3 linked regions of the Homo sapiens genome follow. The protein of the gene in region 3 purifies or fractionates together with the protein of the main gene of each other region. This does not show direct contact. Each region holds a gene or a part of one and is shown on either strand. Other genes may lie near its edges. The genes, in order: CECR2, HMGXB4 and SMARCA1.

Region 1 (3,754 bases), on a different chromosome or scaffold from region 3:
TCTGGGTTTGCCCTGATATGGAAATGACACATGGACAGACACACCACACACACAGAGGAGCCTTGCTATTTTAAGCATGTACTTTATACAAAATAACCAGTTCATATGGAAATAAATCTACAGACCTCCAAGGATCAAAAAGCTTTTTAAAAAGTTCTTTTAAAAAATTATCCAACACACAATATTGAACTAACTATTGAGGTAAGTGTCGCTCTCAGTGAAACAGGGAATCAGCAGACCACGACAAAATATACACAATATAAAAATAAATAGCATTCCCCTTTCCAGTACTGGCCAGAAGGTTCACATGGTTTCTGCTTTTGCAGCAGGAGCAGAGGCTCCAGACACTGTGTGCCAAGGCTGCTGGGGACTGACCGGGGCCCCAGGAGCTACGCACAAGGCAGGAGAGTGAGGTACCTGAGCCCTGGCTAGGGAAGGGAAAGGAAGGGAAGGGAAGGGAAGGGAAGGGGCTGCATGGTTTCCTGAACGGGGGTCAGCATTTCAATAACTTATGCAATATCCATACCCCTGCTCCCACCCCACCCACCCCTGTCAACAACACAAGCAAGGACAATCAACTGCTCGTCAGCCGTTCTGACGTTAGAGTTCAGTTAGTCCTCTTGTGCAGGACAAGAGGGAGAAACTAGGTAGGAAAAGGTCAAGCCGAGCCCGGAACAGTCCCTCCGCACATCTGTCTAGCACAGAGCAGGATCAACATCCAGCCTGGAGGCAAAACTTGTGTCCCAGCTTAATTTAAAAAATGAAGGTCCGGTGTGTTGGCTCACGCCTGTAATCCCAGCATGTTGGGAGGCCAAGGCGGGTGGATCACCTGAGGTCAGGAGTTTGAGACCAGCCTGGCCAACATGGTGAAACCCCGCCTCTACTAAAAATACAAAAATTAGCTGGGAGTGGTGGTGCGCGCTTGTAGTCCCAGCTACTTGGGAGGCCGAGGCAGACGAATCCCTTGAACCTGGGAGGTGGAGGTTGCAGTGAGCCGAGATCGTGCCATTGCACTCCAGTCTGGGGGACAAGAGCAAGATTTCGTCTCAAAAAAAAAAAAAAAAAAAAGAAAAGAAAAAAAACGGGATGCAGTAACATTCACCCAAACACTACTGTCCCAAGGGGAAAGTGCGTGAGGCTTGGTGTCCTATGGCTGCACGGCAGAGTCCAACCCAAAAAAGAAATAGGGAGCCCAGCTTTTTCTCACGCAGCAAATGGCAATCACATTCTTTGTGCTATGCAGTGATGTGAGTCCACGAATAAAAGCCTCTGCATTCTCAACCGAAATAAGAAGTATCCTTACTGAAGCTAGTGTCCGGAGAGTCACTGGTGGACACACCACACCCCAGGAGCCCCCGGATTGGGCAGTACATGGCTCACTAATATATGGGACTGATTTTCTGCAATGCGGGTCCATGGAGAATCACAGAGGGTGAACTGACTGACAGACAAAGAAGGGCAACAATGCTAGAAAACCTTCAGCCTTTCCTTTCTATGAAAACCAAGGTTCTCTGCAAGCAGGTTGGGGTTCTTACACTACTCAACTGTCCTTACCTTGTGACTATAGGATTAGGCCTTCCTGTGAAATTTCAAATCAGGTCTTAAGAGCAGTGTAGTATTTACAGATTTGAATGTCCATTAAAAAAAAAAATTGAACCAAGAAGTATGGATTGCAAACTTGTTTCTGACAGCTGTGGTGACTGCAACACTGGGATTTTGTGGGCCTGGGATGGCATCTGCCAGCAGTAGGAATCAGCAAAAATAATATAGTAACTATACAGCAGATAAATGGCATGGGATAATGACACCAAATGCTTAGTCACAAGAAACACTTTCAGGGAACAAGACAGAGTAAATCGACATTTAAAGCTGAGGTCTGACTGAACTGAGGGGCACAAACTGCAGGTCTTAAGGTTTTCACTAAGCCTAACGAAGAGGAGCATGAGAAGGCCTTCTGAGAGCATCTGGCCCGGGCTCAGTGAGAAGATACGAACTGTTGATGAGCAGCTCGTGTGTACGGCCAGGTAAACTAAACCAACCTGATGAAGGCTGGTGATGAAGGAGAGGCGGAGAGGTGGGATGGAAAGTTACGTCAACAAGAATCCTACAGGGTTTGTTCTTATTTATTCTCCACATTCATTCACTGTAACAAATTTCAGCCAATAGCTCCTGCTACCTTTTAACTGAGGGGAAAAAGTAGCTGAATTAAAAACTATTTTTTAATTCTGAGGGGAAAACAAACCCAGAATCCTCCCAAGAAGCTCATCTTTTCTCTTGGGCCTTAGGGACACAAGTTTCTAACTTATTAACAACTCTACTAAAGGTGAGCCATGAGTGTTAAATCAAAGAGATGCAATGGTATTTCCCATTCTCCACGATCTCAGCTATCCCCATCCTCCTGGGGACCACTGAGAGCCGGCACGCTGACAAGGTGACAGTGACCCACAGGGTGAAATGTCCTTCTAGCTTGAGAGCAAACCTTTTCAGGATACCTTACACACTACTTCCTAAATATAACATATCACATAACCATCATTTTCCTAATGGAGAAGATGGCAAATGCATTTGCATCTGCTTTAAGACATTGCATCTGCTTAAGACACTTGGAAAGAGAAGTGCTAGAGGAGGAAGAAAAGGTGAGAAGAAGATCCTGCTTGGGGATGGGTGGGCTAGGGGTTCACAGCAGCTCACGCTCCTGTGGATTCCTGCAACCTTGCAGCTCCAGACAGCTTATAGCAGATCTGCACTTCAAAGACCAGTGAAAGCTCAGGACACTCCCTGGACAATGGACGAAGCACTAGTACCTATAAGGCATGGACACATTCCCACACAGGACGCAGGAAGGCTGACAATTCTGCTGCTGCTGATGTTCTTGTTCACAGTGTTATAATACAGTAGTTCTATTTCCTATTGCTCTTCCTTAATATTTTCTGTCGAAAACCAAGAAGGGAGATTAAGGATAAAGGGATTTACTGACTTTTCCTGTATCGTTCACAGCATCGCTCTAGCAACAGCTGATTGGGGCGGTCACTGGGAGAGAGAGGAGACAGGATTACCTGGAAGAGTGTGCACACAACTGCTCAAGGACCACGAGGGCAGAAGGAAAGGGGGCAATGGCCCAACTGCTGCTTACAGCCACTCCCACCCAGGCCCCTGGGGTAGTCATGGGGAGAGGCCCACAGTGTCAGTGCTCCTGTTAAGGAGAAGTGAGAGGCCTCTGATTCAAACCAGCATTACCAGGAAAAGAGAAAGGCTGTCAGTGGCCAAATTCTCTGGGCCTAGACCAGGTCTAACCAGCTCCAAACTAGCTTTTTACCTCCTCCCTGCTTCTGCACAAACACAGAAACTGAAGTAGTAATGCCCCATGTTAGCGGATACTAGCTAAAGGGCAGACCCATCCACAATCCTTCTGTCCTCTTCACTCTTCTAAACCAGGTTATGCCAGTGATAGGTTTCTAACAAGAATTAGGATCCAGTGAGAACACAGGCTCAAAACTCAATCCACTTGCAAATACATCAAATTTAAAATTAAAACCTCTCTGAGAGAAAATCTGTATTTTTGTGCATTATACCTTAGAGGCACCTGTGTTCCCTACTCAACTCTCAAATCTGCCTGAGCCCTAGGCAGCAGCACCAGGTTCAGCATTTGCGTACGGATATGAACTTCCATCATCCTGGAACTGGTGTCTTGGCTTTCATTTCTCTGTATCATGGATGCTTCCGATTAGCTTCCTTTTCCACGGACAGCATATGT
Region 2 (3,754 bases), on a different chromosome or scaffold from region 3:
TCTGGTGTCTTTAATTTGATCCCACAATACAAGGCCTATCAACTTAGGTTAAAAAATATGTGTAGAATTTGAAAAAAGATGTTAGGTTTTTACCAAATTTCTGAATGATTAGAACCAAAGAAGGATTTCCCTAGAGCAGCTCAGAAGCAATCCTCTAGATGTGTAATCTTACCCTTCCATTGTATAAGAGTTTTATGCTTTATAAAGCATATTCATGTGTGCCTAACACTGCAGTCTTTTGGAGTTGGTAGGGCAGCGATTTTACACATTAGGCAAATGAAATTTGTAGCGGTTAAGTGACATGTGTCCAGGATCTCTGGTATAGTGTTTTTCTTACCTCATTAACTTCTAATACAGAGACAAATACAGTCCCTGACTTATGATGGTTTGACTTTTGATTTTTCAACTTTATAAGGATGCAAAAGCAATATGCACTCAGTAAAAACTGTACTTCTAGTACCCATACAGCCATTCTGTTTTTCACTTTCAGTACAGTATTCAATACATTACATAAGATATTCAACACTTTATTATAAAACAGGCTTTGTGTTAAATGACTTTGCCCAAGTGTATGCAAATGTAAGTGTCTTGAGCACATTTAAGGTGGGCTCAGCTAAGCTGTGATGTTCTGTAGGCTAGGTGTATTAAATGCATTTTTGACTTACAGTATTTTCAATTTTCAATGGGTTTATCAGGATGTAACACTATCATAAGTTGAAGAGCATCTTTACAACAATATAATACAAGATATCTCATTATAACTTTACATCCAAGGGCAATTTAAGGAAAAGGCCAATTGTAGAATCTTGGAAATAAACAATTGTATATTTTTGTGCATTTATGTATGTGCTTTACAACATTTATTTTTACATAGTTTCCCACCTTATCCGTTTAAGAGATATGTATAGAAAGTTCATCTCTTTTACAGATGAGATAAACTAAGGCAAAATCTAAAGTGATTTGCAGAACTGAGGAAAGAAACAAGATTTATGCTCTAATGCTACAGGAAGAAGAAATTAATCGCACTGCTTCAAGATATAAATGGAAAGCAAAAGCGCTACAGATCAGTAATGTTCTTACCTATACCTGGATGGTCAGCCACAATGGTCACGCGATACTCTTTACAGAACACCTGGTAGGCCGACATGTTCTTCTTTTTTGGCTAATGCCGCATAGAAGATACAACAGGGTAAGACTTGATTAGAACCCAGGTTTAGTAACCCTGAATCCATAGTAATAAAATAGAAGGATACCTAAACTTTTTCATCAAGGGAAGAGTTCCAAACTACTAACCAGCTTTCCTAAACAGGATAATATATATATATATATTTTTTGAGATACAGTCTCACTCTGTCGCCCAGGCTGGAGTGCAGTGGCGCAATCTTGGCTCACTATAACTTCCGCCTCCTGGGTTCAAGCGATTCTCCTGCCTCAGCCTTCTGAGTAGCTGAGATTACAGGTGCCTGCCACCACACCCGGGTAATTTTTGTATTTTTAGTAGAGATGGGGTTTCACCATGTTGGCCAGGCTGGTCTCGAACTCCTGACCTCAGGCGATCTGCCCACCTCAGCCTCCCAAAGTGCTGGGATTACAGGCTTGAGCCACCATGCCTGGCCAGGAAAATACATTTTTAATCCATGTTACTTACCACTCAGAGATGAACATCAGTTTTAATTTTAGTAGGTAAAAACCACATGCTAAATTACTTGTAAAGACCTTCCTTCTCCCTATATACAATCCCATGTTACACATTTCTTTCAGAATTAAGTGCTAAGAGAATCTTTACCACTCCTGGGGTGTCTATTTTTCTCATCTTTGAAAATCTGAACCACATAATTTCCTTTTAAACTTTGGAGCCAGAAACCCAAAAGCCAAATCTATGTTCTTTTTGCTTCTCTGGTTTTGATTTCTAATCTTGTAATTTCCCTCATCCTGCTTTTATTGTCATTTGTAGCTTCTCATTATTTGATTGTTCACATTCTTTGGGTTCAAGGTGAGAAGTGAACAAATAACTGAAGACAATTCTTTGGTAGTCACTGTCAGATGCAACGCCTTCACTTCAACAAACAGCTCTGTACTACCTGAGGCATGTTTGTTCTTCACTATATTCTGACAATGCCAAAAGGAATATATGATTTTTGAGAAACAAAATCAAATTATTTTTAAAGTCAGTTCAACAAGAAATATATAAAACAGAAGATTATATTTCTATGCATTCCATTTCACAATTATACGTGGTCTAAGGGGAAAAAGTTAAGTTTTTCCTATCTAGAAAGAGACATGCAATTAGATTCATCTATCCAAATTTCTCATTGTGAGCATGGGAAAAAATAAAGTCAGAGAAACTGTAACTTGCTGAGGGTACCACCACTAAGCTAGTAATAATACCAGACCCTGGCAGTTATAACCACAACCCAGGTAGCCCTGACTTTCAGGGCCATGCATTATGGGCCCAAGAAAGAACATATGTTGCTCCCTTACAGAAAAAGTTAACTATTTAAAATAAAGAAAGAGTTATCACTTAATAATCTTAATCTAACAAACAAATATTTTCAGTATGGCTTTCCTCCAAAACTCATCTGGAAGCATCAAAATATGATTCTCCGTCTTTCATCTACTCCTAGTCCTTTTTGGCCCTACAGTTATTAAAATGACATGAATGTGGCCGGGTGGGGTAGCTCACACCTGTAATCCAGCACTTTGGGAGGCCAAGGCGGGCAGATCACGAGGTCATCCTGGCTAACACGGTGAAACCCCGTCTCTACTAAAAATATAAAAAATTAGCCGGGCATGGTGGTGGGCGCCTGTAGTCCCAGCTACTCGGGAGGCTGAGGCAGGAGAATGGTGTGAACCCGGGAGGTGGAGCTTGCAGTAAGCCGAGATTGCACCACTGCACTCCAGCCTGGGCGACAGAGCGAGACTCCGTTTCAACAACAACAAAAAATATGACATGAATGTATGGTGCTTTAAAAGCCCTTGGGGGCTTTTGTTTGCCTTAAGAGTCAGGTTTTGTGATGAAAACCAAACCAGCCACACAGTCCTGTCTCGTAACTTCAGAGTTGTATCTTGCTTTAAACAAAGCTCGATCGTGCACTCTGCCTAGCTGCCTTAGTTCTTCATGTTGTTCCCATAAAATAACGACCCTCAAAGGACAAAGACCGAGGCTGATGGCAATAAAAAGCTTATGTGATGACTCCAACTTTAATTCCAAAAGCGATTCTGAAATCATTTGATGAATAGAAACATTCCTAGAACACCTTCCAAGGTAACTGCTTTGAATGAGATTGCACTTATTTGGAGATAAAATTTGTGGTATGTTTGTTAAATTTCATACTAATATTTTAATAATGGCTTATCTATATGCCTGACATTTGCTAGAATACATGATGAAAGAAAAATTTGTGGAAGTCTACACACTGCCAAATCTTTCCCAACTGTACAATCAATCTCACTATTAAATACTGAGAACATTAGAAAGTATATATGCTTGAGAGATTTCACAGCTTGTTTGGCCATATTATAAAACTTACAAGGAAGGTGTTTAACAACGTTTTCTCAAACACAATACTGTAAAAGGTTAATGTTCCTATTCTATAAGGCTAACTATAGCTGTCACACTAATCACAATTCTTGGCCAATATACTATAGATCCAAATTCACATACTGAAGAAAAGGGTTTCCTTCATAACTCTTATAAAGGACTTTATTCGATTATGTAGAAACTAGATTAGCGTTTATTGAGTACCTGTGCTGG
Region 3 (3,754 bases):
CTACTTTGTAAACTTAAACCTACTTTGCCATTGTTTCAATGACAAAAAATGCTCTAGATTCTAAACATCTTGTTTCAAATGATAAGTTTAAGAGCTGAACCTATTTGGAAGTTAGAAAAGTCCCATGTACTACATATAGAAAACTTGCTAGACATATTTACCTATTTTTAATAAGATTTCTGGATAGCTAAACACGAAGAGGTTTCGCCCAGGGAGGGCACCAAAGCGCTGCGCCCTCTTGGCCCATACTTTGCCCTACACGCTTCATCTGTATCCTTTACAATACCCTTTATAATAAACCAGTAAGTGTAAAAAAAATCCATATGCTTCAGCAGCTAAACTGATTCTGGTCGAGCTCAACAACACAGGTGAGTAAGAGAGGGAGAGGATTTGAGGACCAGTTAACAGATTGATTAAAGCAATCTTTTCAGCTCTACGCCCGCTAGCCCCAAGTTAATGGGACCCACAGGAACTCTCTGGAATAGGGTGGAACTCTGAGGGTGTTTGAGCATCTAAATGGGCCTGACAGGAACTCTCTACTTTAAGGACGACCTAGAAAGAAAGGCACGAATTCAATCCACTGAATGTGAATCTCAGAACTGAACCAGAAGACCAAATTCCAGAGGTGGGAAGGTGGGAAACTAATTTTGTCAATGCTTATCCAAGAGCCACCCTTGTTTTATCAGAGCTTTATTTGCCTCTTTTAGCTAGGTGATAGAGACAATAGCAGTCAGTTTGTTAGGATAAATCTTATAACCTTTCTTATAACCTTTTCATAGAAATACAATTATAGTTTATACTCTCATCTATGTCTTATTCATAAAAGTTTAAAACATCTCTGAACAAAGGTACAATTAAATTGATGCTAAATAAATGAATAACGTTAAAATACAACACCATGTTTCAAATTATATACAAACCTGAATACTCCATGACCTCCTCAGGGGATTTGCCCTCTACCTCTCGAGCTATGTTATCAATGTCATCTCTTCCATATTTCTCATTAGCTTTAATAAACTGGTTAAAATCTCGTTTAGTCCAGTTTGTGAAACCCTGTGAACAAAAAGTTAAGCATTATCAATAGAGGTTAAATTAATAAATCCATTTATTGCCCTATTTACTTCTATACAATGATACATTAAAAAACACTTTAAAAGACTTAAAATGTTTCTCCTTATAAAATTGCACATATTTTATGTTGGAATCAAAAGTTGAGTGAGAGTTGTTATAGAAATAACTGCTTTTCTATTACAAAGAGAATGTTGATACATAGTTCGAAGATCTGTAGTTTTTAATTTCATATTTTATAGATGCCTACATTAAAATACAAATGCATGAAAATAAAAATGCTAATATAAATGCTGAAGTCGTGATATTCTAGTACTTCAATGATTTTTTTCACAGATCTGTTCCTACATAAATTAAAAGAGAGAAATGTGGATGCACTAAATCAAAAGAACACTGAGGAATAACCAAAAGATAATGCAAAAAAAAATTGTAGCTCTTTACATCATTCTGAACTAGTGTGAATAAATAATTTCTGTTCTAAATTATGTTCATAAATAGAACTTCTACAAGCAGAACGTTATTGGAGCCACTCAATTTCTTTACTAAAACATAAAACACTTTAGCCAGTGTTTTAAATTCCCTTGGCATTATTAGCATGTCTGTGAAGTCACAAGACCAAGAATTTGTCTTCCACTCCTCGAGCCCCAACTCACATAAATGTGATACTCCAGACACTGCAAAACTCTATCCCTGGCTTTTAGTTGATAAAGATTTCAGATGACCCCACATTTTGTTCCTACGTACTGCCATGGTTTTTTGAAAAAGATTAATTATTTAAGGCAGCAGAGAAGGACAAAAATGAATTCATATACTAGGAGAAGCAGAAAACTGATTATATTTCTAATTACAAACTAAAATATTATCTCAGTTGAGACTGTATATTCATGTTATACCGTACATTCACAATATACTCCAAGTCATGTAGCATTCTAAAGCCATAACTTTACTTTTACATTCAGGAAATACATTTTGAAAATAGAACATGAATATTTAAATGTTTTATTTTATTCTGTGGTAAGTTCTAATATTCAGCCATCTGCCATTATATTTTCAAACTAAACTTTATTACTTCCAGGCATTTGGCTCAAAAACTTATGAATGTAATTTGTGAAAATCCATACAATAAAATTACGTTATAGCAAAAAAAACCTATATAATAAATAATATACAAATATAAAAACTATCTTTCAATAATTAACGTGGAGAATTACCTACTACTATGCATCGCACATTGTTCAAAATTTGTTGAATAAATAAATCTTGCTGGCAACCCTCTATACTAAAGTAATGTCCTACGGTACACATTTTGTTTATTTTGCAAGCCTTCTATGCTGAAATTTTTATCTTCTATAGTTTATTTTAGAAGTAGAACACTCGTAAAACTCATGATAGCAATAATGACTTAAAAGCATTAATATTTTGTTCAAATGGAAACCTTCCTAATTTAATAATTGTTATACAATGATCACCTTAAATAATAATAATAATAATAAAAGCTTCAGAAATCTCTCATCATTGTATGAAAATTATAAAAAAAGATAAAAAGAATTTTGAAAATTATGAAATTATTCCATTAATAAAAAATTAGTAGAATATAACTTCAGGAGACAATTCACATCTATAAACAAAAGAAATTTAAATTTTCAAGAATATGTTAATAACAGGCTTGGCACGGTGACTCACACCTGTAGTATCAGTTGCACTTTGGGAGGCCGAGGTGGGTGGATCACTTGAGGTCAGGAGTTTGAGACCAGCCTGGCCAACATGGCAAAACCCCATCTCTACTAAAAACACAAAAATTAGCCAGGCACGGTGGTGGGTGCCTGTAATCCCAGCTACTCGGGAGGCTTGGGCAGGAGAATCACTTGAACCTGGGAGGTGGAGGATACAGTGAGCTCAGATCGCACCACTGCACTCCGGCCTGGGTGACAGAGCGAGACTGTCTCAAAAAACAAAAAAGAATATGTTAATAACTACTGTCTATCAGAATTCAAATGTGGATTCACTGACCTTATTATAATTGGCAAAATGTATGTCAAATTGCTAATACTTGACACTTATATTTTGCATATACATACTATCCACTATTTCCAAAAGGGCATATTCTATAAGATCAATTTTTAAAAATAAGGAGATTTGGTCTAAACATGTTTACAAAATAGCCCTGAGTTTTGTTGGTGTGTCACACTAGGATACTAGGCCCATACAATAAAAAGTGTGATCTATATTTTCTTTTTTTCTATTGATTGACTGTAAGTATTACAGCCATTGAAAATATTTTACTTGTGTGAGAAGTTTTTCCTTTTCTTCAGTCTCTTCTGGTGTAAGAGGTTCAGCTCCATCAATCTTTTTTTGCTCTTCTCTTTGAGCCAGAGCTGGATTTGGGATATCAGGATTCCTTGGAACCTATAAATCAAGAGATAAACTAAGAGTAAACTGATGAGAAAAATTAATTACTAAGGCTGTATATACACATATCAATCTTTAGAGTTATTTCAAGAGTAAACAATATAAAATCATAGCCAGAATGACACACGGTCCTCTCCACATTTCTGCTACCATGATCCTATTGAAGTAAAAACCATTCTTGTGCCACATGATATTCCATAGTTAAAACTCACTGGCAAATGCCACATTAGATTTCAGATATGATTATACCCTGGAACAAAGTCTACCCTTATACTAT

The links.
Region 1: the proteins of SMARCA1 (region 3) and CECR2 purify together in Homo sapiens (affinity purification with mass spectrometry; 3 studies listed by BioGRID and IntAct, with this or other methods). This does not show direct contact.
Region 2: the proteins of SMARCA1 (region 3) and HMGXB4 purify together in Homo sapiens (affinity purification with mass spectrometry; 2 studies listed by BioGRID and IntAct, with this or other methods). This does not show direct contact.

What each region holds. Positions count from the first base shown.
Region 1 is NC_000022.11:17,554,460-17,558,213, reverse strand, and holds the end of CECR2 (chromatin remodeling regulator CECR2), read right to left. Parts: 3' UTR 63-3,754; downstream 1-62. UniProt on the Homo sapiens protein: Regulatory subunit of the ATP-dependent CERF-1 and CERF-5 ISWI chromatin remodeling complexes, which form ordered nucleosome arrays on chromatin and facilitate access to DNA during DNA-templated processes such as DNA replication, transcription, and repair.
Region 2 is NC_000022.11:35,281,370-35,285,123, reverse strand, and holds part of HMGXB4 (HMG domain-containing protein 4), read right to left. Parts: intron 1,163-3,754; coding exon 1,081-1,162; intron 1-1,080. UniProt on the Homo sapiens protein: Negatively regulates Wnt/beta-catenin signaling during development.
Region 3 is NC_000023.11:129,467,853-129,471,606, forward strand, and holds part of SMARCA1 (SWI/SNF-related matrix-associated actin-dependent regulator of chromatin subfamily A member 1), read right to left. Parts: intron 3,475-3,754; coding exon 3,352-3,474; intron 1,054-3,351; coding exon 921-1,053; intron 1-920.